7 linked regions of the Homo sapiens genome follow. The protein of the gene in region 2 purifies or fractionates together with the protein of the main gene of each other region. This does not show direct contact. Each region holds a gene or a part of one and is shown on either strand. Other genes may lie near its edges. The genes, in order: OGA, SLC18A2, FUNDC2, MTM1, SEC63, MBTPS2 and RAP1A.

Region 1 (4,511 bases), about 15 Mb from region 2:
AAAAGTTATCTATTTTCAAATTAACAATCTGAGACTCTACTTTTAGTAGCTAATTAGTTGTATCACAGGGAAACTTTTTTTTTTTTTTTTTAAATATTTAAGAGCTCAAAGGTATACAGGCAGAAAGTGGAAAATCTCACTACTACTTTTTATTCTAAGCTCACGGTGTTTCAGATATCTATTTCACAACCAAGACCATGAAACCCATCATAGTATTTGTGACTACTATGAAAACTATGACATGTCAGTCAGCCTTGCTGCCTGCTGTGTGCTGTATATAAGTCCATTACATATTCCTTATAGCTGGATTGAAAACCTGAAAATGAAATGAAGTCCCTAGAGAAACTTGGCCATGCTGGTGCTTTTTACCAAGTTTGACAATTTAAAAAAAAAAAATCAGTGTTCAAAGGAGACATACAAAAGTCCATTTAATGTAGCAGAGATGTTTAGGGGATTACAATTTCTATCCCCTGGTAAAACCAATACTTGGTAGAAGGATAAAGAAAAAGCCACGTGAAATAATACTGAATAGCACCAGAATAGCCTTACACTAAAGCTCGCATGCGCACAGGGCTGGGAGGATGGCTTCCTCTTGCCAGGCCCTTTAGGTCATTTCAGCAATTGTTCTGTTAAACATAGCATTAATGTTATCAAGACACAGCAAGCAGCAGAAAGCTTGTGGAGTCACATTTCATAGTGTCTCATCTCCAAATCAGATAAAAGTGGTATACAGGGTTCCATCCAGAAAGCATTCAGTCAGAGCAAGTTAAAGTCAGTACTTTCTAACATACTTTTAAGATACTTATGCTGAATTAGCCCAAGGGAGAAAAATTAATGTGCTTGATGTATTTACTAAGACTTGCATCTCAAGTCTTCAATAATGCCTATTTTTGAAAGAAACCTAGGCAACGAATTGAAGAGACTTGGAAATGTGCCAATTCCCTAAATGTTTTTCTCCCTGTGGGATAATTTTTTTTAAAGGGACAATATATTTGAGGAGAAGAGATTATTCCTGGTGCACCTACCTAACCACTGTACAAAAGACTTCACCATAGACATTATACTCTTGATATCCCAAACATAGGAGTACATGTCATAAAGAATTGTCCTGTTGGCACAATTGGAGAGCCGAGTGAACATTCCCATCACTAGTCCACACATCTCTTCAAACTTGGCTGCTCGTGACCGCCATTCTTCAATCTATTGAAGATCAATAAAAAGACTCAAAAAACTGTAAGCTTAACAAAATAATCTGAGACACAGTTACACATTAAGCTGCTTATGTTGTCAGGTACTGGCAATTTATCTTAACCATTAAAGTATCATTTTGTGTCTCCCCAAACTGACAAATATTCCTAAAATAATGACCTTTCCTCATTCTTAACTAGAAGGGCAAACTATGAAACTGAAGGTACCAGATTTAGTAGAGTCCACATCCACTGTAAAGAACATACTTTTTTTTTTTTTTTTTTTTTGAGACAGTTTCCCTCTCGTCACCCAGGCTGGAGTACAATGGCACGATCTCAGCTCACTGCAAACTCCGCCTCCCGGGTTCTTCAAGCGATTCTCCTGCCTCAGCCTCCTGAGTAGCTGGGATTACAGGTGCCCGTCACCATGCCCGGCTAATTTTTGTATTTTTAGTACAGATGGGGTTTCACCATGTTGGCCAGGCTGATCTCAAACTCCTGACCTCAGGTGATCTGCCCGCCTCTGCCTCCCAAAGTTCTGGGACTACAGGCATGAGCCATCATAACCGGCCTAAAGAACATATTCTAAAACATGGTCAATTTTCTGTCAGTTACAGTGTACTCATTTAAGAACCTTTTCCACATTACCAGTATGGGGAACCACCCAGGCTTCAGCAGCAGGTACATTAAACATACTCACTTTTTCAGAGTCTTTTCCTTTGCAATTGACACTGACAACACTACTATTTGCTCGAAGCCATTGAAATTCCCGTAACATCTGTGCTCCTTTGGGTCCATGCTCGTAAGGAAGGTAGAATAGATCAGCAAGTAACTGCAAATCCTCCAGGGTCACTGGTTCCGCAGTGTACAAAGGCTTTTCATTTGGACCTGGCACAAACTGCTCCTTGTTTGTCTGTTCATCAGTTTGCATGGGGGCAATGTCACTAATACAATCTTCTTGCATGGACATCTCTGGGGATTTTGATTCAGCTATGCTCTCTTTATCAGTGTCCATTGGTTTCAATTCCTCTGCCATTTTCGCTTCAACAATTTCACTCAGTATTTGATTGTCATTCTTGTGGTCCGTTTCTTCTTGTTTTTCCACCACCATGTCCATGGGTTCTTCATCAGGCTGTTTCTTTTCTTCTTCCTTGGTCAGAGTAGTAGGCTCACCACTCAAGGCTGCTCCCTGGCTCATAATGGGCTCCTGATAAACTGTTGTTACTACGGTTGTGGCATTTAAAGAGGGTGCTGCAACTAAAGGAGTCCCATCAACTACACTTGCTTTAGCTCCACTGTGTGCAACTTGCCTACCTACAAAAATAAATAAATGTATAAATAAAATGGTCACACAGATAATCAGAATTAGAGATAGAACACATTAGATTCAGAAAGATGCTTTATCATATTTGTTAAGTGGAACCTCAATTTTAGATCCAAATTAATTTGACCTCTAAGAAAAATGAGATTTCTCTATACTACTAGGGATGCAGGAATGGAAGGGCGTTGGGAGGTAAACATGCCAACATCTACTATTACATTCTCTTTTGAAAATTTGTGTCTAAAAACCCTTAAATTACTTCAAAAAATATGTTTTTAAGAGAAATTAGCATTCCATCAAAATAAAAGCTAATATTTAAGACCAAAAGTAAGATTTAAAAATCCTTATTCTCTAGATCCCCCAATTTCATTTAATTTCACTTTGCTTAGTGGGCATAAGGTAAGGCACATGACAGTGTTCTTTTTTTTGAGACAGAGTCTCGCTCTGTCACCCAGGCTGGAGTACAGTGGCTCAATCTTGGCTCACTGCAACCTCTGCCTCCCAGGTTGAGGCGACTGTCCTGCCTCAGCCTCCCAAGTAGGTGGGACGACAGGCGCATGCCACCACGCCCGGCTAATCTTTGTATTTTTAGTAGGGACAAGGTTTCACTATGTTGGCCAGGCTGGTCTCGAACTCCTGACCTCAGGTGATCCGCCTGCCTCGGCCTCCCAAAGTGCTGAGATTACAGGTGTGAGCCACCACACCCGGGAGACAGTGTTCTTTACTTTGTGACTCAACTATGTGATCTAACCCCCTTAACAAAGAATGGCCAAACTCACTGCTGTATTGATGAGGCACACCAAACTCTTGCAACCATTCTGTTAATGCTAGCTTTAGAGCCATCTGTGGACTATAGAGTACATCAGTTTCAATATCTTCATCACTGCCTTCATTTTCTAATTTTATCTGGATGGACACAGTACTATCTTCACTGTCAGCTGCAAAAAATAAAATAAAAAAGCACAAAAATAGTTTTGATTACAAAAGCCTTCTGACAAGTGAGAAGAATAAATGCAACTAGTTTTCACAGTATAACCACAGAAACAAAGAACAGAATGAGAACAAACCTTAAACATAAAAATTCAAATAAAAGCAAGACCCTTCACCAAACCACTTCATATAGGATAGTAACCTAAACGTAATGTTAAATGTAAAATCTCAATTGAAATAAGAAATATAAATTTTAGTATCAGTGGAAGAGTCAATCTTAACCGTCTACTGAGTACTAATTGTTGGGAAGTCAAGGTCAAAAGTACCATGCTTTTCGTATGAAGAAAACATTGCATAGCCTTCAGGGCCTTGTAACTTCTTTTTTTTTTTTTTTTTTTTTGAGATGGAGTCTCACCCCATCACCCAGGCTGGAGTGCAGTGGCAGGATCTTGGCTCACTACAACCTCCGCCTCACAGGTTCAAGCAATTCTCCCACCTGAGCCTCCCCAGTAGCTGGGACTACAGGCGCATGCCACCATGCCCAGCTAATTTTTCTATTATTCGTGAAGATGGGGTTTCACCATGTTGGCCAGACTGGTCTCGAACTCGACCTTGTGATCTGCCCACCTGGGCCTCCCAAAGTGCTGAGATTACAAGCGTGAGCCACTACAACCGACTGTAACTTCATTAATAAAGGCGCTGAGGGAAAAAGAAGAGGCCAGGCATGGTGGCTCATGCCTGTAATCTCAGCACTTTGGGAGGCTGAGGCGGGCAAATCACCTGAGGTCTGCAGTTTGAGACTAGCCTGGCCAACATGGTAAAACCCCATCTCTACTAAAAATACAAAAAATTAGCCAGACGTGGTGGCAGGCACCTGTAATCCCAGCTACTCGGGAGGCTGAGGCAGGAGAACTGCTTGAACCCAGGTGTCAAAGGTTGCAGTGAGCTGAGATCGGGCCATTGCACTCCAGCCTGAGCAACAAGAGCAAGACTCCGTCTCAGAAAAAAAAAAAAAAAAGAGATAATCGACAGAGACCCACAAATTAGCACACATAAGGCAACAAAGCTCTGAG
Region 2 (4,511 bases):
CAAGCCCAGTAGATATGAATTTGGGGACTGGGCAGCTCTTCTGGACACTCCAAGATTCTGCTTCCCACCGCAGTTCAGATGGATTCAGAGAAGGGACAAATGTGCATTCCATTTGCCTTTAATTGTCTTCAAGGAGTTAACTTGTGAGCCATTGCAAACAGTCTTTTGATGTAAACTGTGCCAATCACATCCTCCATGAGCAAGATGTATGACTCAAGTCTTCAGTGTTGTAAACAAATGTGTTTAAAGGCTTTTTAAAATTGGTTAATATGTTTCTGATTAAAGAGTAGTTAAAAATATGGAGCATCAGAGCTTGCAGAGACTTTTCCTGAAAGCTTTTGGGCCAGTCCTAGCATTTTATAGGCAAAGGAGTTTGCAGTTCAGGAGGAGAAAGCATTTACCACAACAGTGGCAGGACTGTAGCCACATGTTCCGACTGTCCCATTTCAAGCTTTGTTCTTCCCCGCTTCCTGTTCTTCCCACCTGCTTACAATTATACAGCTTGTACCTTTAGCTACTAGAAATAAAGAATGCAGCTCAAAATCTGTCTTTCTTGCACTGACTTGGGCTCTTCCTGGTTGTACCAGGCAGAACTGCTGGAGACCCAGTGAGTTGCTGATTTTGCTACTTTTAATCAATGAGCAGAGAGTTTAGAAAAGATCAGCCTGATTCCTGTGGACATGGAACCTCCCTGGTCCCTGAAATATTCAGTCTTTTTCCAGTCCCTGATGTGAACTGGTCCAGCCTCGTGCATCCCTAAAGATGTGTGGGGAAAGCTTCCTGTAGTCAGGCTGGGCAGAGCTATTCTTTTCCAAAGCTGCTTGTTTTAACTGAAGTGGGACCCACTCTGAATCGAGACATTCTACACCACACCACACCATAACTGGAATCCTCTATTCACAGTCGTGATGGTGCCATGTGTGTGGCTTTTGTGGGTAGGAGTCACAAAATGTAGGCCGCCTGTTTATTTATTTATTTATTTAGACAGGGTCTTGCTCTATTGCCCAGGCTGGAGTGCAGTGGGGCTATCTCGGCTCACTGCAACCTCTACCTCCCAGGTTCAAGCAATTCTCCTGCCTCAGCCTCCTGAGTAGCTGAGACTACATGCCACCATGCCTGGCTAATTTTTTTTGTATTTTAGTAGAGATGGGGTTTCAGCATTTGGCCAGGCTGATCTCGAACTCCTGACCTCAAGTGATCCTCCTGCCTCAGCCTCTCAAAGTGCTGGGATTACAGGCGTGAGCCACCATGCCCGGCCCTGTCTGTTTTTTTTAAATATTCGATAAGTTCTCACACCAAACCCTGAAAATATAGAGTAACAATTCTTGGGTTCATTTAACTGCTAATAGGATGCACATTCTTCCTGTTTCATTTGTTATTCAGATCCTGTATTTCTGCTGAAAATATATGACCAGTTAGGTGGCAAAAACCTTTGATTTGGGTGTGTGTAGTGATGACCTGGCCAATAGCACACTTTCCAAGAAAGCCTGAGGTTGCTGGATTGACCTGATTTCCATGTTGGAACCTCTTGCCTCCTATTTTATAATTTTGGCTGAACTATTCATTTCATGATTGCAGTTGTGTGCAGGTGGTACCAGAAATTATACTAGTGATACTTGGTCATCATTTGGTCTAAGAAGCAAATTTTAGATATATATGTCCATAAGAGGAAAGTTCCAGGCACATGAACAATGGGACAACACGTTTACATTTCTCTCTTCCCTCAGTCAGGTAACGATATGGCATTGTGGTCTTGCTTAGCATAAGGTTGAAATAATAGTTGCATCTTCAGAACCAAAAGATATTCCACACCAAACGACTGGCTTGGGAAAGAGTTAACTTCATTGCTGGGGACCGTTTCCCTTGCTTCCTTCTTAGCTTGTCATTGTCTCAGTGATCTGCTTTTTATCAAGCCAGCGTCAATGGCTTAATTTATTTCCATAGTTACTTAGTATATTTGAAAGCAGTTCTTTTTGCTTGCAAATCTTAGCTAACATCTGAACGACAAGGAGGAAGCCACAGGGCATGAAATCTCTACGAAATCTACCATGGTTTTATTTTATTTTTTTGCTAGCTTCAGCCAGTGGGTCTGAAGTGGGCTGTGTAGGAACAAGCAGTGACCTTTTCAGCTTCTCTATGGACAGGGAAACCGGCTGTTCTGAGAAGAGATCTCCCATCCTGCATGTGGTTAGGATGGTAGGGAGGGCTTGATGAGTCTTTGCTTCTGAAATCAGAGGAAACTGGCTGTGGAATTAGAACATTCCTAGGAGAAGCAAAAGCTCTGTTAAGCTATGTGTCAGAGAACAGGGCTCACGCCCAGGAAAGTGAGAAGTCCGTGCCCCCTGGAATTCTCTGGTAGCTGAAAAAGACAAGCAGAACCTAAGAATTTTGACAAGCGGAATCGAAGAATTTTATTTACTAAATGATTGACAAACCTCCTACTATATCCAGGCAAATTGAAAATATCATTCCATTTACTGACATTCATTTACTGCACACCTTTTAGGAGTGTGTAGGGATCACTGGAAGGGAGCTGTTGTCTCTCGTTGCATCTGGTGATAGTTTGCACCCTTCGGGGCTCTGTAGTCTGTATGCTTCTTGTAATTTACCACGGTAGAGGAAACTGTGGTTTTAGCAATCATGAGAAGAGAGCTTCCATTAGTCTCTATGGCAAGGATAAGCTAATTATTAACACTAGAGAAGTATTGTCTTCATTGACCATTTAGGGACAGATGGGGTTTCTCCAATGACTAAGTATATATAATTAACATAACTTTTATTGTTTTACATGTTTTTCTAGGGATTCATTATGTGATTTTTAGTCTTACTCAAATTGGATTAACTGCTTCGTGATGCTCTGTAGAGGATGACCGTGGGCCAGTATGACATTTGGCTAAAGGTTTGCTGAATCAGATCTGGCTCTGCTTAGCAATACTTTAATTGAGAAGGCCCTGAATTGAGACAAGGGGGGCAACTCAGACACAGATTGTGACTAATGTCAGTTGAGTTTCTGTCTGTTTAGGAGATACTGTGGGGAAGCAGAAAGGGTTTGGTCCTTCTGCCCACCACTCAATGACTAGGGACGCTGGACGACTCTCCTTCTATGGTGGGTGCCCGAGGGGCCAGAAGAGTTTGAGAACGGAGACCCAGGAGCTTCCCAGGGAGTCTTCTTTGCCTTGAAGCCGAGCTCTGGGGAAAAATGATGCCCAGCGCTTACCACTGAGCAGCCCATGCAGTGGCTTGGCCTGTGTTGAAAGTGCAGGCACAGGTGTGTCCGGTACTGAGGAGGCGGCAACATGAGCCTGGTTGTATCTGAAGCCATTGGCTTGCTCTGCAGCCATGGGTGAGCCACTCTGTCTCTGAACCTCAGCTTTCTCATCTAAGGTGAGGGTTTGGACTGGCTAGCCCTTGAGTTTCCTTCTAGCTGTGATATTCGTTTATTCCATACGTGCATTGTTAAAATCCCAAAGAAAATTAAAAAGAAAAACAGTAGCTGCAGTGTTTCTAAAGAAAACACAGTACCTCAAATGGTAAAAAGAACCCTCTGTAGGCACAAACGCTGTGGTTTTCAGTGAAACTGTGCACTCTCCATCCCATGTGCTCCAGCGTCCCCACCCAGGTGCACATCAGCAGGGCCTAGCACATGTTAACACACTCAGGGTATGCCCGTAGCCTTGAATTTGGGGCAAGTAATTCACCTCCCCGAGCCTCAGTGTTGATCCTCTGAAAAATGGATAAAACCAGCTACCCTCCCTTGGAATCTCAGGCCACCCAGCATGCTGGTTCCCTGCCTACAGTCGTGGGAATGTCTGAGTCTTCAGGTAGGGAGGGACCTCAGTGGCTTCCAGCCCACCACAGCTGTGCCCTGATGGGTTACCTGGAATACTGGCTGGACTGAACAGTGGGCACAGTATGGCTGGTGGTTTGGGGGCCACAGACAAGGGTTGCCACATTTTATTGAGTTTTGTCCTGAAACCACCCAGTGTTTCTGCCTACAGTCTGGGAAAGGGCCACAGATGTCTTATTTGCCTTCAGGGATGTCCCTGCAGCCTGAAGGGTTCCATATTAGAGCCTTATAAATAGCCAAAATGAAGAACTGGTGAAACAAGAGTGAAGCCCCTAATTCCAATAGCTTTGATACGTATTGGTACTTCAACAACTAGATTTTCCAAATATATATTGAACAGAGGGAGAAGCCTGTGTTTATTCCAGGACAGCCCGGAAGATTGTCATATGCCCGTTCTTTCATGGGACAAACTGTAGTTGCTGAAAATAAATTGCCTGTGAGTTCTCCTCTCTGAGCCTCCTGGACGTTTCCTGATTCAGTATCCTGCAGTGCCGTGTGAGCCCCCGGTGTTGGGTTTCTTTTGTCCACATGAATAAGGGGTACAGAGAATCAGCTCTGGGTGGGCTGAGACAGAAGAAGCTGTCACCCGATGGCCATCTGAACTGCAGGTCAGAATCCTGGCATCTTCTCTGGTTTACCCAATTTGCTTGGGGCCCCACTTTGT
Region 3 (4,511 bases), on a different chromosome or scaffold from region 2:
AGAACCTGGCATATAGGAAACAATCATTATGTGTAACCATTAAATGGTACTTTAAGATGATGTTTAGATACATGCTCCACATTAAGTGACCAATTTCACAGAAGCCAATGTGTTTTCACTGGTTAAAGGAGATGATGGTACCTATAACTGCAATACTAAATCATGCACAAAAGACAGTGGACATCTTTCACATCACTTACCATCCAGTGACACCTCCAATGAACAGCTGGGTTGCCACGCTATACTTTTCTGCTGAAGGTCCAGATTCCTGCCCGAACAGCTTACGCCACCATGGCTGCTTCTTAGCAAATTCCGCAAGGTCCAGTGACTCAAAATTTCCCTCAAAGTTTCCTACAAGAAGTAATACGTTAAATAAGAAAATATTTACTTTTATACCTAACTAGATTGAGATATTTAAAGAAACAGACATAAATGTAATAAGAAACCTCCAAATATTCTATTTTAAATAGTAAATTTATTCTAAGTTGCAATTTTGGAAAATCAGACTAAAATCAGCAAATACTAATGTCTATATTACAGGGAAAAACCTAGAAAATCTCAAATTAGTCCTCTAGTTTGTCCTCTCAAATTTAAAAATAACAAAAAAGGCTGGGCGCGGTGGCTCACGCCTGTAATCCCAGCACTTTGGGAGGCCGAGGTGGGCGAATCACCTGAGGTCAGGAGATCGAAACCAGTCTGGCCAAAATGGCAAAACCCCATCTCTACTACAAATACAAAAATTAGCCAGGCGTGGTGGCAGGCACCTGTAATCCCAGCTACTCAGGAGGCTAAGGCAAAAGAATTGCTTGAACCCAGGAAGCAAAGGTTGCAGTGAGCCGAGATAGTGCCGCTGCACTCCAGCCTGGGCAACAGAGCAAGACTCCATCTCAAATAAATAAATAAATCCAAAAAGACCTATAAAAAACTGCCAGTAATGCATCCCAAATGAAACAAATTTGCCCCTTCTCTTCAGAAGTAGCTCAATGCTATTCAGTAATCCACAAATTTTCTAAGTACTACGTGGATCTCCAGTGATAATGAAGATGAGAGGGTAATGTTTAATTGAGCTCTTACTATTTACCAGGCAATGTGCTAAACATTAATCATGTACATCTAATTAATCCACAGAATAAGGTAGGTACTACTTATTAACTCAATTTTATAATTAAGAAATGAAGGCCAGGCATGGTGGCTCACACCTGTAATCCCAGCACTTTGGGAGGCCGGAGGCAGGTGGATCACCTGAGGTCGGGAGTTCAAGACCAACCTGACCAGCATGGAAAAACCCCATCTCTACTAAAAATACAAAATTAGCCGGGGGTGGTGGCACATGCCTGTAATCCTAGCTACTCGGGAGGAGAATCACTTGAACCTGAGGGGCAGAGGTTGCGGTGAGCCAAGATCGCACCACTGCACTCTAGCCTGCGCAACAAGAATGAGACTCCATCTCAAAAAAAAAAAAAAAAAAAAAAAGAAGGCACCAGGCGTGGTGGCTCACGCCTGTAATCCCAACACCTTGGGAGGCCAAGGTGGGCAGATCACCTGAGGTCAGGAGTTTGAGGCCAGCCTGGCCAACATGGTGAAACCTCGTCTCTACTAAAACTACAAAAATTAGCTGGGCATGGTGGCATGCGCCTGTAATCACAGCTACTTGGGAGGCTGAGGCAGGAGAATCACTGGAACCGGGGAGGTGGAGGTGGCAGTGAGCCGAGATCGCGCCACTTCACTCCAGCCTGGGCAACAAGAGTGAAACTCCGTCTCAGAAAAAAAAAAAAAATGAAATGAAGGTTCCAAAGTTAAATGATTTGCCCAAGCATGGAGAAAGACTTAACAAAATGTCAATCCCTTTCTCTGTGGGAAGATAATGTCAGGCTCCCCTACTATACCCAGCCCTGTTTCCCTGGAAACACACCGCACTAAGAAATGTCTGATATGAAATGTCAGCAATGTACTATTCAAAGCTGTTTACTGTAAAATTGACCTCAAATGATCAACTTCATCTGGCATGGAGTGTGTACAATCTTTTCACACATAATGTAACAAACAATAGAAAATGACTACTACCCATGCAAAGGCAAAGCCATATAAAGGAAACAAAATTTGTTTAAATAAAAGAAATAGAAGCAGGCCAGGCACGGTGGCTCACGCCTGTATCCCAGCACTTTGGAAAGCCTGGGGGACGGATCACTTGAAGTCTGGAGTTCAAGACCAGCCTGGCCAACATGGTGAAACCCTGTTTCTACTAAAAATACAAAAATTAGCTGGGCGTGGTGGCATGTGCCTGTAGTCCCAGCTACTCGGGAGGCTGGGACAGGAAAATCACTTGAACGCGGGTAGCGAAGGTTGCAGTGAGCCAAGGATCGCACCACTGCACTCCAGCATGGGTGACACAGCGAGACTCAGTCCCAAAAAGAAAAAAGAAAAAGAAACAGAAACAGAAACAGAACCAGTGATGATCAAGATGCTGAAGTAAGCAAATAACAATGATCAAAAACTGCTCAAAAGATTAAACATATATGTAATTGGAGTTCCAGAAGATTAGAAAGAATGGGATAGAAGTAATATTCAAAGAGGTACACAAAAGTTATTCAGGCCGACAAGAAATGATGCCACATGGAAATATGGAAATGCAGAAAGGAATGAGACACTGGAATGGGCAAATAGGTGGATAAATCTAAATGAATACTTACTGTAAAAAAATAATAATTACAGAAATTTTATACTTTAAAATCAAAGAAAAAAATCAGAATAAAAAGTAGAAAATAGGGGCTGGGCGTGGTGGCTCATGCCTATAATCCAAGCACTTTGGGAGGCCGAGGCGGGTGGATCACCTGAGGTCAGGAGTTCGAGACCAGCCTGGCCAACATGGTAAAACCCCGTCTCTACTAAAAATACCAAAAATTAGCCGGGCATAGTGGCAGGCGCCTGTAATCCCAGCTACTCAGGAGGCTGAGATGGGAGAATTGCTTGAACCTGGGAGGCGGAGGTTGCAGTGAGCCGAGATCAGACCACTGCCCATTTTCCTGGGCAACAAGAGCGAAACTCCATCTCAAAAAAAAAAAAAAAAAAAGTAGAAAATAGGAATAGAAAGGGATTTCTTCAATCTGATATAGGACATCTATGAAAAATATACAACTAACATCATACTTAATGGTGAAATATGGAACACTTTTCTTTCCCTAAAATCTATTCAACTGTTTTTTGTTTTGTTTTGAGACAGGGTCTCACTCTATCACCCACATTGGAGTGCAGTGGCACTATCACAGATTACTGCAACTTCAAACTTCTGGGCTCAAGCAATCCTCCCACCTCAGCCTCCCCAGTAGCTGGACTACAGCTGTGCACCACTATGACCAACTGATTTTTTTTTTTTTTTTTTTTTTTTTGTAGACAGGAGGTCTCACTTTGTTGCCTAGGCTGGTCTGGAACTCCTGGCCCCAAGTGATCCTCCCTCCTTAGCCTCCCAAAGTGCTGGGATTACAAGTGTGAGCCACCTCGCCCAGCACTGTACTGGAGTTCCTAGCCAGTGCAACAAAAGAAAAGAAATAAAAGTCAAAGAGATTAGAAAGGAGGTACAACAATAATTCTGTCTTCATTGGCAGATAATATAACGGTGTATATAGAAAACCCAGAAAAATCTACAAAAAGGTACCAGAAGCAAGGTCACACATTATAAGACCAATATTAAAAAGTCATTTGAATTTTTGTGTATTAGAAATGATGAATTGGAAAACAAAATAATTTTAATTGCAAAAATTATGTTGTAGTAAATTCAATGAAAGATGCACAAGACCTGTTCACTGTAAACTAGAAAACACTGCAAACTACAAAACACTGCCAAGAAATTGAAGATGACCTAAAATAACAGTGATATACTGTTTATGTTTTGCAAGACTCAATATTTTTAAGATGTTCATTCTCTCCATATATTGATCTATATATTCAATACAATCTCAATTAAAAAGTAGGTTTTTTCTTTTTTCTTTTTTTTTTTTTTTTTGAGATAGAGTTTTGCTCTTTTTGCCCAGGCTGGAGTGCAATGACAATCTCGGCTCACCACAACCTCCTCCTCCCAGGTTCAAGTGATTCTCCTGCCTCAGCCTCCCAAGTAGCTGGGATTACAGGCATGCACCACCACGCCTGGCTAATTTTTTGTATTTTTAGTAGAGACAGGGTTTCTCCATGTTGGTCAGGCTGATCTCAAACTCCCGACCTCAGGTGATCCGCCTGCCTCAGCCTCCCAAAGTGCTGGGATTACAGGAGTGAGCCACCACGCCCGGCAAAAAAGTAGGTTTTTATGTAATTGACAAACTGGTTCTAAAATTCATATGAAGATACAAAAAAACCCAGCAGTGTTCCAGTTACTTCGGCTGTACTACAAATTACTCCAAAACTTCATGAAGCAAAACAATCATATATTATGCTCTCAGATTTTGTGGATCAGGAATTCAGCCACAGCACTGTGGTTTGTCTTTGTTTCATGTCTGAGGCTTTAGCCAGAAGACTTACAG
Region 4 (4,511 bases), on a different chromosome or scaffold from region 2:
ATTTTTTGTTCCAAAATGAGAGGCAGATTAACAAAATGTAGTTACTTAGAAACCACTGAAAACACATGGTTCTTGCTCTTATTGAGGGCTCCAAAATAAAGAGAAAAGTGGAGACTCTCAACGATTAATAGGTGACATTTTAAAGGGGTAACCAGAGGATTTCAAAGGCTGGAGTTTCTCATTTCTAAAGTTTATTCGATTTTGTAACAGAATAATAGATTGTTTTCATTATTCTTTAGTAATTTTCCTTTCCTGTTTTCGACCTCTTTGAAGTTCTGCTTTCATTATTTTCTAGTTTTCTAGTTCTTTATTTCCTTTTTGGCAGATGTGGGGGATAGGGACCGTCATTTGCCTAGAAGATTTTGACTCTGGATTGGGCAGCCTGCCCCAATTTGAATCCTGGACCTAATATTATCTGTGTGACTTTAGGCAAGGTACTTAACTCTGTGCTTTAGTTTCCTTATCTGTCAAATGAGAATAATAATAGTACCTTTCTCAAAGGGTTGCTGGAGGGACTGAGTGAATAATCTATGCTAAGTGCTTAGAAAAGTGTCTTGCATGTAGTAGACACTAAAGAAAAGCTGTTATTGACTTGAACGATATGGAACTCTTTTGTTTTTAAGAAAATACATTATTCTAGCTATGTCTTAATAAACTTTTGGAATCCAGTAGCTTGCTTTTCTCGACATTTCTCTGCATTTCCTTGTTGGCACGAGCTTTTGGTTCCAGGCGACGCTGGCAGCAGTGTCCTCCGTTCTTGCAGTGCTATATTCCCTTTACCATTTGGACTTAGAAATTTCTTGAGGCCAAATTTTGTTGCTACAAACAATAATAGAGCAAGAGAGGCCTTCTTCTAGTTTATCTGCCTTGAAAGTGAGAGTGTATCAGGAGACCCAGTAGGAGTTACTGAGTTAGGTCCCGTTGTCATCCTGTAGTTGGGGGAAGATTTTTCATTGGAAATCTTTGCAGTGTATTTTTCCACTGTGAGTACCACGACAGTCTCATCTTTTTCTTTTTAAGAATGTGGAGGCATCTCTTTAGATAATTGGCATTGTGTACTACTAGTGCTTTCTATTTCTACCAGAGGAACTATGGTAAATGAGCCTTTTGTTTGTGTGAGGTGGTAGAAAGCTTCCTGCATTTGGATTCCAGAAGCTGAGTTCAGGTCCCAGTTCTCTTCCTTAACTCTGTGTCACTGGACAAGTCATTTAACCTTGCTGCTAGTGGCTCTTCCATCTGTAAGATAGAGCTAATAAAACCTGCCCTGCCAAGTTTCCAGAGTTCGTCAGAGAATCAAATGTGCCTCAGAGCCCTTTGTAAAGTGTGCAGCATTATTATTATTGCATGAATGTGTTGTATAAGCAGTTGCTATTTGGAGAACTGGTATAAGAGGGCAGTTGTCCTTCCTGTTCTTGGACTGTCTTCCCTGTGGCTGTAGGTGTGGCCTCTCTGCCTCAATCTCCCTCTTCTGTCATCATTAAAATATGCAGGTATTTATATTGCCTCTTTCATAGGGGCCTGATGTCACTGGTATACCATAACAAGTTTTTGTTTTATGTATTCCTAAAATGGTAGTAGTGTATAACCAACAATCACAGGGTGACAGCAAGGCAAGCTCAGCCTCAGGGAATGTTGCCTGCCTCTCCCAAGTGTCTCAGAATGGAAGACTTTCTCTTTTCCAATCGAGACCTGACCGCAGCTCCTGAGTCCATACTAGACTGGATGCTTGTGCTTCTGGGGTTAGAATAAAAAGCGATCCAGGCTCTGGGGAAGAGATGGTTGATAGCTCCCCAGGTCTGTACCATCCTCCTTGCTGGAACAGGGCAGGCTCCTGAGTGATAGGGCAGGCGCCTGAGCGGCCTTTTCTCGTTAAAGTTGTTTCTCAGTATCTTGAAATGTCTCTGTAAGTTGCACTTTGCAATGAATTTCATGTACTTGTATTAGTTTAGTATTGCTGTTCCTTGACTGTTTGTCTTAATAGGTAACTCCTACATATTTCAGTATGTTTTTCATTTTCTATGATTGTAATAAAAAGGGCGAGGTTGGAGATATTTTTTCTGATTGTCTGAAACCTAAGATGGTCCTATACACACAGTAGACATTTAGTAAACATTATTTAACTTGAACTAGACAAAGGAGGCCAGCTTAGAATTGTTCACACATGATCATTGTAACCAATTCTGTTGCATGTCTAGAGATCATGCTCCCTGTCTGCCAGATGAAATGGAGCTCATGCTTAACCTTTCTTGCCGTGGTCAAACAGCAAATGAGAAAGTTCTTTGAATCAGTCATTGTCTTGCCACCCTTTTCTTCTCAGCTTCTTGATTTTTGAACTCTTGGCATGAGCAGTTTGAGTACAGATTAGTTTTTGCTTTGCTTGCTAGTATGTTTGGGGTGGGAAGTTGAAGGGGGAATAATTGAAAGTAAAAATAAAAGTTGTTTGTAACTCATTCATCTCTTATCCCCTTGCCTCCAAACCCTGACAGCACACAGCAATGCCCTTTCTTTAGCATGTGATAATTGTTATATTTTGATAGCATGTCCTTGAACTTTTTTGTGAGAAGGAAGCATTGTTTATTTCCCAGAGCCTTTTGCTTGGAATGTAATGGATTGCTACATCAGTTATCCTTTCCCCTTCTTGGGAGATGTAGAGGCAGAGGTGGGTTATAAGGTAGATTCTTAGCATCAGGTGGTGGTGCTTTAAATTCCCTTATATGACTTTTAAATTGCTTTATGGCCCTGAGACAACTTAGGTGGGGATTTAGGAGAATAGGTACTATGCTGGAATCCAGCAGGCCTGGAATTGGCCCAAGCTCTTTTACTGAAATAAGAAATGTACCTGCCTGCACAGCAGTGACCCTTGGCCATGACATGAAATATACCTGCGTGTCAGTACTGTTTGTGGATAACAGTAAGAAGGAAAGTTTGCACTTGGTTTCAGTGAGACCCCAGGAGGGCGCTGCGGTTAACACGGGTTATGTGACTAGGAGGATATGAGAAACCCCAGCCAGTATTCCATTTTGAGTTTCCTGGTTCTGAGGTGTTCCTTGCCCATGTCAGTGGTTCTGGATCTGGGAGAGAAAGCACAGGTCCCTACTGCCCTAACAAAGGGAGGACTGACCGTTGGTGCTGGCCCCCACCTCTTTGAATCCCTTGCTTGGAGAGAGAACTGATTTTTTCAAAGTTGAAGCTGAGTCTAACTCTGCTGGACATGTCCTTCCTTCACTATATCAACTCTAATAATCTCCCCAGAGATTCCCATTACGCCTATGGCATGAAACAGGTTTTTCTTATTGATGGGGATTGCCCTTGCTCCCCGGGAGCTGGTGAAACAGGCAGAATTTCAAGCCCCATCCTCACCCACTGAGACCCACCACCGACTCCTTAAGCTGAATGTGAATTTTAATGAGGCCCCCGGGTGATTTTGCAGTAAATTAAAGTTCGGAAATAGTCTAATAGTACCAGCTCATATCCTGGCTTCCCAGTCCTTTAAGATAGCGCTAGCCAATAGAGAATGTGTAATTTAAAATTTTCTAGTAGCCACATTGAACAAGTAAAGAAACAGGTGAAATCAATTTTAATATATTTAACACAGCATGTGCGAAATATTTCAATGTGTCATCGACATAATAATGACACGTTTTTCCTTTTTTGGTACTAAATTGTCAATCAGGTGTATATTTTACATTATAGCCCATCTCAGTTTGGATTAGCCACAGTTCAAGTGTTCAGGAGCTACAGCTGTGGAGAGATACATTTGGTCTTGATTTGCTGAGGATTTCATCAGATTCACTGTCAATGCTTAAATAGCCGCCTCAGTCATAATTTACATTAATATTAGGTGTAATCTTTGCCAAGTCCTTAGCCCAGTGCTTTTACATCAGGTCTCATATGAATCCTCACAGCATCGCTTTGAGGTAAAAACTGTTAAGATCCCCACTGAGTTTCAGAGAGGTTAGGTCTAAGCTGAAGCGTTTAGGAAGCAGTAATATCAGGATTTGAACCCAGGCAAGTCTGACTTCTGGGTTTGCAGCCTCCGCTGCAACTTCCTGCAGCTCTCATGACTACAGGGTTTTTTCTCGGTTTCAGTTTTTAGTTTTGTAAGCCATATTAAAAAGGCACCATTGGTATATGTATGAAATGCAATCTTCTTTCTTGAGGGGAACTTCAAAGAACTCGAGGAATGCCTCTTTCTTCTCTGGCTTTTCAGAGCTGGTGCAGAGTCCCTAAACAGAAGTTTCCTCATAGAGGGAATACCACGGACCAGGAGATTGCCTTTCCTGCTGCTCATTAGAATCACTTGGGGAGTTTTACATACTTGCTGCCCTGGGCATCGCCCACAGATATTCGAACTTAATTGATCTGGGCTGAGACTCTTGACATCTGCATTTTTAAAAAGTGGTCCCAGCGTGCAGCACTACCAGGAGCGCTTCTCCAACTTCATTGCCTTATGAATCACCTGGACTTCGAGTTGAAACACAGATTCTGACTCAGTGGTTCCGGGATGGGCC
Region 5 (4,511 bases), on a different chromosome or scaffold from region 2:
CTCAACAATGATTTGTTTCCTGCTTCTTACAGGTAAGTAAAAATGGAGATGCTTATGTATCTGTACAGAACATTAGCAACAGAATTACTAGTTAATTGAGTATTTCAAAGCAACTCCAATGATATTGCCTAAATAGTGCTCCTTCATTCCACCATAAGCATCCTGTCCTATCACCAATTACTAAGCGTCACATGGCCTTGTTTTCGGAAGCATTTAACTGCATTACTGCCTTAAAGGAGGTGGGGGATGGTAGGATATCATTCAAAAAGAACATTTATTTCCTAGAGGTAGTAACTGTCTTTTAAAACTTTAACTGAAATAATGTCGGTGAAAAAGAGATAATTAATGACATCCCTGGAAACACTGTTGCCTCCATCAACTACTTTTCTTTTAAGCAGAATACATGGCTTCAAGTACTTATGAAGCTTTAAATAACTATAAAACAGACATTATTGGTAACCACTGTCGGAGGAAGCTTGTAGATGGGGAGGTGAGAGGTGTTGGTTGTTGTGAAATCCATTTTGCTCCCTCCAAAAACTTACAAAGTCCTTTAAAAAAATTATTAGGAACTTTTGTATGATCTGCAATTAACTAAACATTTCTTATACAGAGCATTCTCTCACCTTGAAACACTAAATTTTAACACTTGCCAAAACGTCTGACTTACTTAGATCTTCAAACCATTTGTGAAGTAATTATGTAGCATATACATTTCTTTTTTAAAAAGTCCTTGAGCAATTATTTGGCCAAAAAAGAACAGCAACAAAACACACCGCACCACCATGCTATGGTTTGGGTCTGTGTCCCCACCCAAATCTCATGTTGAATGGTAATCCCCAATGCTGGAGGTGGGGCCTGGTGGAAGGTGATTGGATCAGGGGGGTGGAGTTCTCCCTTTGGTGCTGTTCTCGAGATACACTTCTCACAAGACCTGGTTGTTTAAAAACGTGTGGCATCTCCCCCATCTCTCTCTTCCTCCTGCTCTGGCCATGTGAAGACACTTGCTCTGCCTTTGCCTGCTCTGGCTTTGCCTTCTGCCATGAATAAAAGTTTCCTGAGGCCTCCCCAGCCATGCTTCCTGTACAGCCATCAGAACAATGAGCCAATTAAACCTCTTTTGTTTATATATTACCCAGCCTCAGGTATTTCTTTAGAGCAATGCGAGAACAAACTAATACACACCATTAAGTCTAATTAATTCTGCTGCTTTCATCCCACTAAACCTCTGTAGATACCGGAATCACAAATACCTTCTTCAAGGGTCTCAGGAATTTTCATTCTAGCAAGATGAGACAGTAAAAGAACTCTGGCCTTCAGGCTATATGGGCAGGTAAGTGGAGGCTCATTCTTCTTTAAATTAATGCTGCCAATTTCTCTGATTAGCTAGAATAAATAAAATAATTATTCAAAAACACGCTTTTTTTAAAAAAAGTATTCACTTTAATACTTAACTGCTCATCGGGGGATTTGGGAAATTAGCCTAACCTGTGGTATTAGAATATTATCCGTTGGTCTGCTTGTGGCATCTTTATTATACTGAGGATCAAATTCAGAAGCTCCAGCCAAAACCATGATAAGACCTAACAAAACAAAAGAAATATGAAGGTAAATAAATATGCTCATTCATTAATTCCCCCTCCTGAGATACTTAATTCACTTGAAAGTGAAGCACTTTTCTAAACATGCACAATGCTAAAAATTATCTGAACTCCACTGACAAGTATTTATTTCTTCCATAAAAAAAGTAACATCTCGCTTTTTAAAATGTACACAGTATCAACCACCACAAGTGAACAGAAGTATAGATCAAATAAAGCACACCAAAGCAACTGGAGGCATTAAAATCACTGAAAGTTCCACAGAAACTTTCTATAGAACATCAGTATTCTGTGTGGTATTAATAATTCACGTGAAAAAAGGGGGCCCTATGATTAAATAAAGCTGAAAATAATGTAAACAAGAGTTAAAGGTTTCTTTACTACATGACTTCTCAAGGCCTTTTGTAAACCTAATATGCATTATAATTTTCCAAAAAAATTTTATTATGGAACCCAAGAGGATTTTGTGGAAATACACATGATTAAAACCCTCAGGCCAGTGGTGGCTCACGCCTGTAATCCCAGCACTTTGGGAGGCTAAGGCAGGCAAATCACAAGATCAGGAATTTGAGACCAGCCAGTTTGAGACCAAGCTGGCCAAAATGGTGAAACCCCATCTCTACTAAAAATACAAAAATTAGCCAGGCATAGTGGTGCACGCCTGTAATCCCAGCTACTCGGGAGGCTGAGGCAGGAGAATTGCTTGCACCCAGGAGGCAGACGTTGTGGTGAGCTGAGATTGTGCCATTGTACTCTAGCCTGGGAGATGAGAGAAACTTTGCCTCAGAGAAAAAAAAATCCATGTAATGTACTCACAAAAGGCAGGATAGTATAGAAGTTAAGTGCACAGACCTTGGTATTTTGTCACTTCCTAGCTAAATGACCTAGGACAATATTCTTCATATCTGTGTATCTCAGCTTCTTCATATGTGCCTGACACACAGCAAGCACAGTACTTGTGTGAGCTATTACTATTACTACCCTCAAATGTTTACTTAATAACAACTGTTCCTAAAACAGCTAAAATAACCTAGAATGTGTAAAGAAATCCACCAGCTAAACAATGCTTCTCTGACAAAGCTGTGTAAGGATACCACCCTCAGAAAAGAAACAGAAATCAAAATGATTGAGGCAAAAAGCACACTTAAAATTATAAACATGAAACATTTTCATAAGGGAGTAAGTTTCTGTATTAACATTTCAATCCAGCTTTAGGAAGAGTAATATTTTCGATAAGGCAAAGTAGTATTAACTCATTCAGAAATGTAAAATCTGTTCACACACAGTCATATATGACCATGAGAAGTCTCTCTCATTACTAAGAAAATTAGTAAAATTGCCAAATCCAAAATGCAGAAAAGTCCATTTTGGTCCCGGAGACACAATTCAAAACTTACATTCTTTTATTTTATTTTTTTTTAAAGAGGGATGGAGGAGCAGCTATGATTTTTGCAGAGCCATCATTCTGAAAGGTAACACTCTATCTCCCAAGGATAAACTGCAAAGTTTGCTTTATATAATCAAAGAAAGTGAAAATAGTATTTTTTTTCTTAAATTTTTAAATAAGAACTGGGAATGAAATACTCTAGCACTAGTTTTCTTTCAACACACCTAAGACTTTTTATTTTTACTACAATTAATACACTATAACATAATGGTTTAAGGCTCAAGAACCAGACTGCCTGGGTTCAATCCTGGATATCACTTACTGTGTATCCTTGAGAGTGTTACTTTTCGGTGCCTCAGTTTCCTCATCTATAAGATGTACTGTAAAACAGCACTCACTTACGAGAACACAGCAAAAATTAAATGAGTCAAGACACATACAGTAACTAGCAGTGTCTGGCATACAACAAATAATAAATGTTAGCTAGAATTACAAAATTTGCACGCATAAGGATTATGGTAAAATTTCTGATGAAATATATGAGTAAATGTGAATAATGAAAATATAAATTAAGAAATGTGACAAAGGGTGCTGGCATTTTTCTCTAGCTTTAATTATATAAATTAACTATTTATAAAACTGTACAATAGAATCTCAACAGTATAGAGTTAAGGAATATATATCAACCCCACATAAGTCACAAAACAATGTGATTAATAGCAAAGTTACTTAAAGTTTACTTACGTTTCATATCCATATTTCGGGTTTTATAAACAAAGTATGTATAAATCTGTGTTGTGCGTATTAGAATCTGGTCTCCACTATAGCGTATTGAGCGATACCACCAAGAGCCCTAAAACACAAAAAAAATTAAACAAGAAAGAAAGTATAAAAACTACGATAGGCTGGGCGAGATGGCTCATTCCTGTAATCCCAGCACTTTGGGAGGCTGAGGTGAGAGGACTGCTTGAGCCCAGGAGTTTGAGACCAGCCTGGGCAACATAGTGAGACCCTGTCTCTACAAAAGAAAAAGAAAAATGCAAACATTAGCTGGGCATGGTGGCACATGCCTCTAGTCCCAGCTGCTCAGGAAGCTGAGGTGGGAAGATTGCTAGAGTCCAGGAGGTCAGGGCTGCAGTAGCCATGATCATACTACTGCACTCCATCCTAGGTGACAGAGGGAGACTCTGTCTCAAAAAAAAAAAAAAAGCAAAACAAAACCCTGATAAATGTTAAGTTTGAGGCAGAATATGTTTATGGTCAAATCTTCTAAATATTCATAAAACAATAAAAATACCTGAGTCTTACAACAAGGACCTCTTTCTTGCATATTTCAAGTGATTTCTTTAGCAAATATTTATACTGTCTGAAGCCTAAACACCAACCTAAGTCACTGCATATATATAATCAAAACATTTACCATTTTGGATAGAAATACCTTAAAGACCAAAAAGGGATAAAACTACCCACTGCTATAAGCACCAAGCTGGTTCTTGACACACAGCATGTCTTCAATAAATACTTGA
Region 6 (4,219 bases), on a different chromosome or scaffold from region 2:
TTCAGAAATTATTAAAGCTTAAAACAGCACTAAGTCTTTTGGGATACTTGTATATGGAAAACTGTGGAGTAACAGGGTGCTTGAATACAAACTTTTATAATTTACACCCAGCTATGTCCAAAGAAAACGGAAATAATTTATAACAACACATACACACACAAATAGGCAAAGATATGTAAAACAGTCATAAGCTGTCTTGAAGCTGGAGAAACATGTCCCTAAGTGAGTAAAACTTTAGGAAAAGCAGGGAGAATGAGGCAAATTAGTAGCAATATTTGTAATATAGGTTTCTGGTATTATTGTATATTTTCACTTGGAAGGGGGTTGAGGATACATTTTTATTTGGGATACTTGTTCTTGAGATAGTATTATGTTCTCAATATTTTGGTATTAGCATTATTATAGCTAATGATGCTTTTCCAGAAAAGTTGAAACAAATAACTTTTAAAGATGCACATAAATAGAACGTAAAAAAACCCCAATAAATAGTTTTCTTTTCTCTTAGAGATTATCTAGTTCAGTGGTTCTCAACCTTGGCTGCACAGTGCAATGACTTGAGGAGCTTAAAAAGTATAAATGCTTGGGTCCCACTGAGCATCTGATTTAATTGGTCGAGGATACAGAACGGGCATCGGGAATTTTAAAAGACCTTGGTGATCCTAAAGTGCAGGTAAGGTTGAGAACTGCTGCTCTAGTTCAATATATAATCAGGTATACATTAACGTTAAAATGTGTAGGTGTTCAGAGTTCTGATTTTTAACCATAGCACCATCTCAAATATTATAAAAGGTTGAAAAAAGAGCCTAATTTAATCAACATGGATAAATTTCAAAAAGCATGTTGAACGATACAAGCCAGACACAAAGAGTACTTATTGCTTTCTATTTACATAAAGTTAAAAATAATCAGAACAGGGGGAGGGGCTACTGACTAGGAAGGGACGCAAGAAGGAAATTCCTGAGAGGGAAATTTTCTCCATTTTGATTAGGGTACACGTATATATATATATATATATATTTATCAAAACTCACAGAAATGGACAATTGAGCTCTGTATGTATGATTTCATTACATGTAAATTTACACTTCAGTAAAAAGGATAAACAATTAAATCTGGATATCTATGACAGGGTCGGGGAGGGAGAGATTATTACTTCAGACGACCCCAAATCCTCATGGGTTAAAAGAAACAGCAAACCCCTGACCAGAACTGGCGAGAATGGAGAGTAGACAGCAGGGAGGGCCAAAGCCTAAGAAATCGCTACAAGACTAGATGCCGAGTTCGAACTACTGCCTGGACGGCAGCGCCCGAGCGCCCGCAAAAATAAGCCCCCGTGCCATTTCCGGTACTAGCAAATCCTCCTGTATGTCCCCACTGGAAGAGTCCGGTGGGAAACCGTGCCACCGCAAGGAAGGAGCCGGCGGTAGCTTGGTTCCTGAGCGGATGCTGGGGCTGTAAGGCGCGCGCGGTCAGCTGTTGGCGGTGCAGGGAGGAGGACGCCGGGGCTCGCCTTCCCTCCTCTGCCGCCGCTGCCGCCATGATTCCGGTGTCGCTGGTGGTGGTGGTGGTGGGTGGCTGGACTGTCGTCTACCTGACCGACTTGGTGCTGAAGGTGAGGGCCTTGGGCCTAAGGTCCAAGCCCGCGGTGCCCATGGCCGGAGCGCAAGGCCTTCTTTTCTCTTCCCCTGCCTGGCGCCTCCCGGGCTGGACGGTGCCCACGTGCGACAGTCCGCGTGGTGGATCGGCCCGGTGGAGTAAATAAAACATTGCCGGCCGCGGGAGGGTTGTGGCGGCCTGCGCGGCTGCCACTGTCGCAGTGCGGGGCAGTGCAGGCCCTTCAGCCTTCGGGTCCTGCCCGGGAGGCGCCAGTGGTGGGATCGGGAGGGCCGGGGCCCTGCCAGACCCAGCAGCTGCAGTGCAGCAGGGAGGAAAAGAAAACGTCTGCTTAGTAAAGACAGTGCTTTCCCTTATTGTTTTTAAGTTCAAAACGCTCTAGAGACTCAGATATTGGAATGAATCTAAATCAAGTCGTGATTGAAATCAGTAGTCTCAAATTTTTAAATGCATATGATCATCTGGTTTGCGGTCAAAATGCAGATTCCGATTCAGCAGGTCTGCGGCAAGGCCTAAAATTCTGCATTTCTAACCAGTTCCCAAGTGCTACTGATGCTGCCAGATCACAGAGTGTACTTCAAAGTAGCACACTCAAATAGCAAGGATTTACATAACCAGTTTCTAACTACTTGAATTCTGATTTACACGCTGCACCCCACTTCTTCACACTAACCAGATACCCTGGGTGCACGGTCCATTTTCCAGTTATTTGAGAAGGGTAGCAAAAAATCAGGAAGAGTCGTCTGACCACATGCTTCAGGCAAGCTTTTGGAATTGAGTACTGGGGGGTAGGGGATGGGGAAGAGTAACTATATATGTGGAATAAGATCATATAAATTCTCAAGTGTTTAATAAAAATTCCAGTTATGGATAGCAAAATCTTCATGTTATGAATACCATTTAAAATAGAAAACCATAGTATTGCATGTTTTAGCTTTAACAATAAAATGAAATGAGACTTTTCCTTCTATCATTTAAACTTGTAAAGTGCAGGAGGTTACATAGCGTAGTCCTTAGATCCAGGGCTGGGCTTCTAGCCAATGTGACCTTGGGAAAATTGCTATCTGTGCCTTGGTTTCTCATCTTTAAATAGAGATAATAGTAAGGATCTCCTAAGATTACAGAGAGAATTACATTAGTGTATCCACATAAAGTCTCGCTCCTCAACTTGAGGTTCAAGGACCAGTAGCACTTGCATCATTTCGGAGCTTGTTAGAAATGCAGAATCCCAGGCCTCACCCCTGACCTAGGGAATCCGAATCTGCATCTTAGCAAGATCCCAGGTGACTCCTCTGCACCTGTTTGTGTTTGAAAAGCACTGATGTGGCCGGTCACAGTGGCTCACACCTGTAATCCCAGCACTTTGGGGGAGGCTGAGGTGGGAGGATTGCCTGAGTCCAGGAGTTTGAGACCAGCCTGGGCAATATAGTGAGACTTTATCTCTACAAAAAATTTAAAAGTTAGCCAACCATGGTGGTGCATGCCTGTAGTCCCAGCTACTCTGGAGGCTGAGGTAGGAGGATCTCTTGAGTCTGAGAGTCAGAGGTTAACAATGAAACAAGATCGTGCCACTGCACTTTGGCCTGGGTGACAGAGCAAGACCCTGTCTCAAAAGAAAAAGCACTGATTTAAAGTACTTGGCATAGTGGTTAACGTGTCATAAGCAATACAGGCCACAATGATTTTGTTGTTTGAAAAAGCCACATGAGCCAGGCATGGTGGTGCAGCCTGTAGTCCCAGCTACTTGGGAGGAAGAGGCGGGAGGATCGCTTGAGGCCAGGAGTTCCAGGCCAGCCTGAGCAACATAGTAAGACACACACACAAAGCCACATGATTTCTTCATGTTGCATATGTGAAAAAAATCTAAAATAAAAAGAACTTTTACAGTCCCTAGTCACAAGTGTGTGAGGTGACCAAGATGTCACTGGTTTCAGTAACAACCCCTAGCTCCTTAAGAATGCACCAACCTCTGAGCAAAAGACCTAACGCCTACTCAGAGTATCTGCCTGGGAAATGGAGAGACCTCAACTTTTAGGAGCCTGCACCTTTAGTTTCTCTGCCTCCAGCTTGGTCTGCTGATCCACCCTGGGCTTTTCTAGGATTTCTGCATAGACATCTGTTAGAGAAGTTGTGTCACTCCTTTTCCAAGTCTTGGAAAACAAGTACACTTAAAATTTAACTACCTGAAGACTGAGAGCAGATAATACTACAGATCCAAAGCAAACAGCTACCTATATTCAGACTATGGTCATTTTTTAAGACTATGATAGGGCTAAGATTTCCTTCTTGGACAGATAAGTTTCTCACATGGGTGGGCATGAATATGACAATACTTACTGTACTTACTGTGTCAGGTATATAACACAGCCTTATGTCATCCAAAATCCTATATTAGTCAAGGACTTCAAACTTCCCTAAAGGTAAAACTCTTGTTGGGGCTGTGTATAAGCCCCTATCCCCACAACCCCAGAGAATTTAAGGGACATTATTGAGCCCAAGATGGCTTTAGATAAGTTTTTTACTTTTTACATGATCGAGGTTGGCCTAACTTCTTAGAGTTGTTGCTCAGAAGAAGAAAGCAAACACTGATCGCAACTGTCCCTTC
Region 7 (3,500 bases), on a different chromosome or scaffold from region 2:
TCAAAAGCAATCCTTTCCTATTAAAGTTTAATCTTTTTAAAAAATATTCTTGGCTACTAGCCTTTTATAACCTCCACCCCACCCAATATATTTGACATAGAAAATACTGAAAATTTTCCACAACTCTGGCTGGTCTTCTACAGAATATTTTTTGTCAAGACCAAGTACCTAATTTTTTTTCCCTTTTAAATAGACTTTATTAGAGCAGTTTTAGTTTCACAGCAAAACTGAGGGGAAGGTGCAGAGATTTCCCACATACTCCTTGCCACCACAAATGCATAGCCTCACCCCACCATCAACATCCTGCACCAGAGTGGTACATTTGTTACAACTGATGAACCCACATGAACACATCGTTATCACCAAGAGTCCACAGTTTACATTAGGATTTTCTTTTGGCATGGTACATTCTATGGGTTTTGACAAATGTATGGCATATAACCCAATTATAGTATTACACAGACTCTAATTTTTTGGTAGTCTAAAGATATCTTTAAACTTATAAAACTAAACAAAAATAAAAATGTTCAGTCACTGGATAACTTCAAGCATAAAGGTGGTCTTAATTGTTGGTAACAAAAGAGTAAGTTGAAAACACACCTACTATTTATATGCAATTTTTTCATATGTGGCAACATTCCCCACCAGGAAAATGTCCACATTAAGGAACAAGTCACTAATCAGTAACAGAACATAGAGCTCTGAATATCAAAGTAGTATTCTGTTAAGAAATGTTCTGTCTTGATGAAACTTTTAAAAACAGATGCACAATATTTGTATTATTTCTCAAAACTATTTTCAAAAAGCAAATCTACAGATCAAATTTTAACATCATAAGGAACTACTTGTAAGCATGTGTGTACAAGTTTCACATTTTACCTTTCTGTAGGAATCTTCTATCGTTGGGTCATATTTTTCAACAAAAATTCCCTGAACAAACTGAACTGTCTGGGGGAAAAAAAAAGAGAAATATTAAAAAATTAAAGGAAAACTCCTTTGAATGTTACTTAACCTACAAATTATAATGATTAATTGAAATTATGTGAAAATTCTGGGTAAACACGTAAATGTAAAGTATATTATTAATTCTTTCAATATAAGGATACATCCATAACTAAGAGTACATTTATTATGAAAGGAGGTAGTCATGTTAAAAACTGTCATCAATACTGATAATACACTGTTAATTACATTAAGTCTTAATATACAAGGATACAAATAACATATCTGAACTAATTAAAACATGAAAAATTATCAATATTTAAACTCCTATTGCCCCTTTATATATCTATAGTAACTTTTATCCCATGCCCTCTGCCCTTAATGGAGTGACAAAGGTTCTAATTTTTTTTTAAACACAGGGTCTTTGCTATGTTGCCTGGGCTGGCCTTGAACTCCTGAACTCAAGAGATCCTCCCGCCTCAGCCTCCCAGGTAGCTGGACCTCAAGCAGCATCTTGTAAATTTGTTAAAGCCTTTCTAAATTGTGGTGGAAAAGAGAAAGGGAAATTTAAACTTACTGAATGTCTATTATGTTCCAGACATTAAGCTAGTCACTTTTAATTTATAACCACATTCAAATTTCACATTTGTCCCAGAAATAGTTATTCTTCCTATTTGCCAGCTGAGATTCAAACATACATCTTCCTGATTCCAAAGCCTTACTTTTTCCATTGGAAAATATTGCCCATTCATCTTTTTCAGATATTATCAACTTTTAAAGGCATCCAAAAGCACATACTAGAAAATACGTATTTATCATTCAGTAAGTGAAAAAAGTACAGAAGACGGTTTTAAGATATTTCCTAGGTAACTTTAAAACAGGGTCTGGTACATTATTGCCTAAAAAGCAAGGGTAAGAATGTGGACTGAGGTCATCTACACTTAAATTACTCAGAGGAATATTTGATATACTATTTTAGCTTGAGCTAAAGAGATTAACTCAAATATAGTAAACAAACTTCTTTCTCCTACTAAGCTTCTATTATTCAAAGGCAACTCAAGATATAATCACACCAAAAACCTTAATCATGATTTTTATCAAGGATTTAATCACCTCATCTTCTAAGTACGACACATAATTTAAATATACAAAGCAGTCTACGCTGGATGCAGTGGCTCATGCTGTACTCCTAGCACTTTAGGAGGCCAAGGCAGGAGGATTGCTTGAGCTCAGGAATTTGAAACCAACCTGGGCAACATAGTGAGACTGTCTCTACAAAAAATTTAAAAATTTAACCAGGTGTGGTGGCATGCACCTGTAGTCCCAGCTACTTGGGTAGCTAAGGTGGGAGGATTGCTTAAGTGTAGGAGGTTGAAGATGCAGTGAGCCATGATCACGCCACTGCACTCCAGGGCAAGATGCTGATTCAAGATTTAAAAAAAAAAAAAAGGCAGTCTAATACAGCTTCCTAATATGCTTTAGGCTAGAGCAGAGAGTCTCAAAATATGGTCCAAGGCAGAGGCTCCCTAAGGTCAAACTATCTTCCTAACAATACTAAGATGTATTCTAAGAGGTACTCTTCTTCTTCTCTCATAAGTTTACAGTGGAATCTTCCAAAGGGTATAGAACATGTGCTATTGAAAGAGACTGGATACAGAAGCAGGCAAAAGAGCCCATGTGCCTTCTATAAGCCAGACATTAATAAGACTTGCAAAAATGCAAAACAATCCAACGTTTCTCATTTCTTTCTTACTAAAAGTAATGTTTGACTACTCCTCTGAATCTTATCCTCTGTCTTAATTTTCAGGGACATCTCATTCATTCATTCACATAGATTATAATTTTATTCCTCAGGTTTTTGTACTGGATCATCTCCTCTTTCCCTCTCCTGTATCCTTATTTTCCTCTCCAGTGGAGAGGAATTGCCCCCAGCATACAAATATGCTTTACTATCTCCAATTCTAAAACAAAAACAAAAACCTCCCTTAACCCCAATATCTCTCCAGCTTCTGCCCCCATTCTCTGTCCCCTCTCATAATCAAGCTTCTTCAAATGTCTATATTCCATTTCCTCAGCTCTCATTTAATCTTCAACCCACCCCATTATGGTTATGGCAACATGACCTGACTAAAGCTGCTTCCTTTATCATGTCCAACTGCCTCTATGCTCTCTGATCATCTCTTTCCTCTTTTTTACTTGACTTTTGAGGAATCAAGTAAAGACACCTTCTTCTATGCTAGATCCTCCAATCCTATCTACTTTCTAAAGGTTGAGAGGTACTCAGAGCTCAGTCCTGGGCTCTGCTCTTCTCTCTCTAGTATCTCCCTAGACCTCTTTCACTCCTATGGACTTTTTCCAAAATTATTTTTGAAAAGGTAATTCATGGACATAGGACTAAATTCAAAAAGGCACAAAAGGCTATGCAGTGATAACTAAGCTTATCTACCACCCTTGTTCCCAGCTATCCAATCCTACTCCCAAGAAAGTAACTGATGTTATTCATAGCTTATTTAACCTTGAAGAGATACTCTATGATTTTACAGGTATCTACCCTCAGC

What was found.
Region 1: the proteins of SLC18A2 (region 2) and OGA purify together in Homo sapiens (co-immunoprecipitation; one large-scale study listed by IntAct). This does not show direct contact.
Region 3: the proteins of SLC18A2 (region 2) and FUNDC2 purify together in Homo sapiens (affinity purification with mass spectrometry; one large-scale study listed by BioGRID and IntAct). This does not show direct contact.
Region 4: the proteins of SLC18A2 (region 2) and MTM1 purify together in Homo sapiens (affinity purification with mass spectrometry; one large-scale study listed by BioGRID and IntAct). This does not show direct contact.
Region 5: the proteins of SLC18A2 (region 2) and SEC63 purify together in Homo sapiens (affinity purification with mass spectrometry; one large-scale study listed by BioGRID and IntAct). This does not show direct contact.
Region 6: the proteins of SLC18A2 (region 2) and MBTPS2 purify together in Homo sapiens (affinity purification with mass spectrometry; one large-scale study listed by BioGRID and IntAct). This does not show direct contact.
Region 7: the proteins of SLC18A2 (region 2) and RAP1A purify together in Homo sapiens (affinity purification with mass spectrometry; one large-scale study listed by BioGRID and IntAct). This does not show direct contact.

What each region holds. Positions count from the first base shown.
Region 1 is NC_000010.11:101,796,955-101,801,465, forward strand, and holds part of OGA (protein O-GlcNAcase), read right to left. Parts: intron 3,447-4,511; coding exon 3,288-3,446; intron 2,502-3,287; coding exon 1,888-2,501; intron 1,201-1,887; coding exon 1,026-1,200; intron 1-1,025.
Region 2 is NC_000010.11:117,247,007-117,251,517, forward strand, and holds part of SLC18A2 (synaptic vesicular amine transporter), read left to right. Parts: intron 1-4,511. UniProt on the Homo sapiens protein: Electrogenic antiporter that exchanges one cationic monoamine with two intravesicular protons across the membrane of secretory and synaptic vesicles.
Region 3 is NC_000023.11:155,029,243-155,033,753, reverse strand, and holds part of FUNDC2 (FUN14 domain-containing protein 2), read right to left. Parts: intron 352-4,511; coding exon 201-351; intron 1-200. UniProt on the Homo sapiens protein: Binds directly and specifically 1,2-Diacyl-sn-glycero-3-phospho-(1'-myo-inositol-3',4',5'-bisphosphate) (PIP3) leading to the recruitment of PIP3 to mitochondria and may play a role in the regulation of the platelet activation via AKT/GSK3B/cGMP signaling pathways.
Region 4 is NC_000023.11:150,570,993-150,575,503, forward strand, and holds part of MTM1 (myotubularin), read left to right. Parts: intron 1-4,511. UniProt on the Homo sapiens protein: Lipid phosphatase which dephosphorylates phosphatidylinositol 3-monophosphate (PI3P) and phosphatidylinositol 3,5-bisphosphate (PI(3,5)P2). Has also been shown to dephosphorylate phosphotyrosine- and phosphoserine-containing peptides.
Region 5 is NC_000006.12:107,905,198-107,909,708, forward strand, and holds part of SEC63 (translocation protein SEC63 homolog), read right to left. Parts: intron 3,839-4,511; coding exon 3,730-3,838; intron 1,581-3,729; coding exon 1,486-1,580; intron 1,384-1,485; coding exon 1,251-1,383; intron 1-1,250. UniProt on the Homo sapiens protein: Mediates cotranslational and post-translational transport of certain precursor polypeptides across endoplasmic reticulum (ER). Proposed to play an auxiliary role in recognition of precursors with short and apolar signal peptides.
Region 6 is NC_000023.11:21,838,198-21,842,416, forward strand, and holds the start of MBTPS2 (membrane-bound transcription factor site-2 protease), read left to right. Parts: upstream 1-1,419; 5' UTR 1,420-1,537; coding exon 1,538-1,612; intron 1,613-4,219. UniProt on the Homo sapiens protein: Zinc metalloprotease that mediates intramembrane proteolysis of proteins such as ATF6, ATF6B, SREBF1/SREBP1 and SREBF2/SREBP2.
Region 7 is NC_000001.11:111,692,789-111,696,288, reverse strand, and holds part of RAP1A (ras-related protein Rap-1A precursor), read right to left. Parts: intron 949-3,500; coding exon 880-948; intron 1-879. UniProt on the Homo sapiens protein: Counteracts the mitogenic function of Ras, at least partly because it can interact with Ras GAPs and RAF in a competitive manner. Together with ITGB1BP1, regulates KRIT1 localization to microtubules and membranes.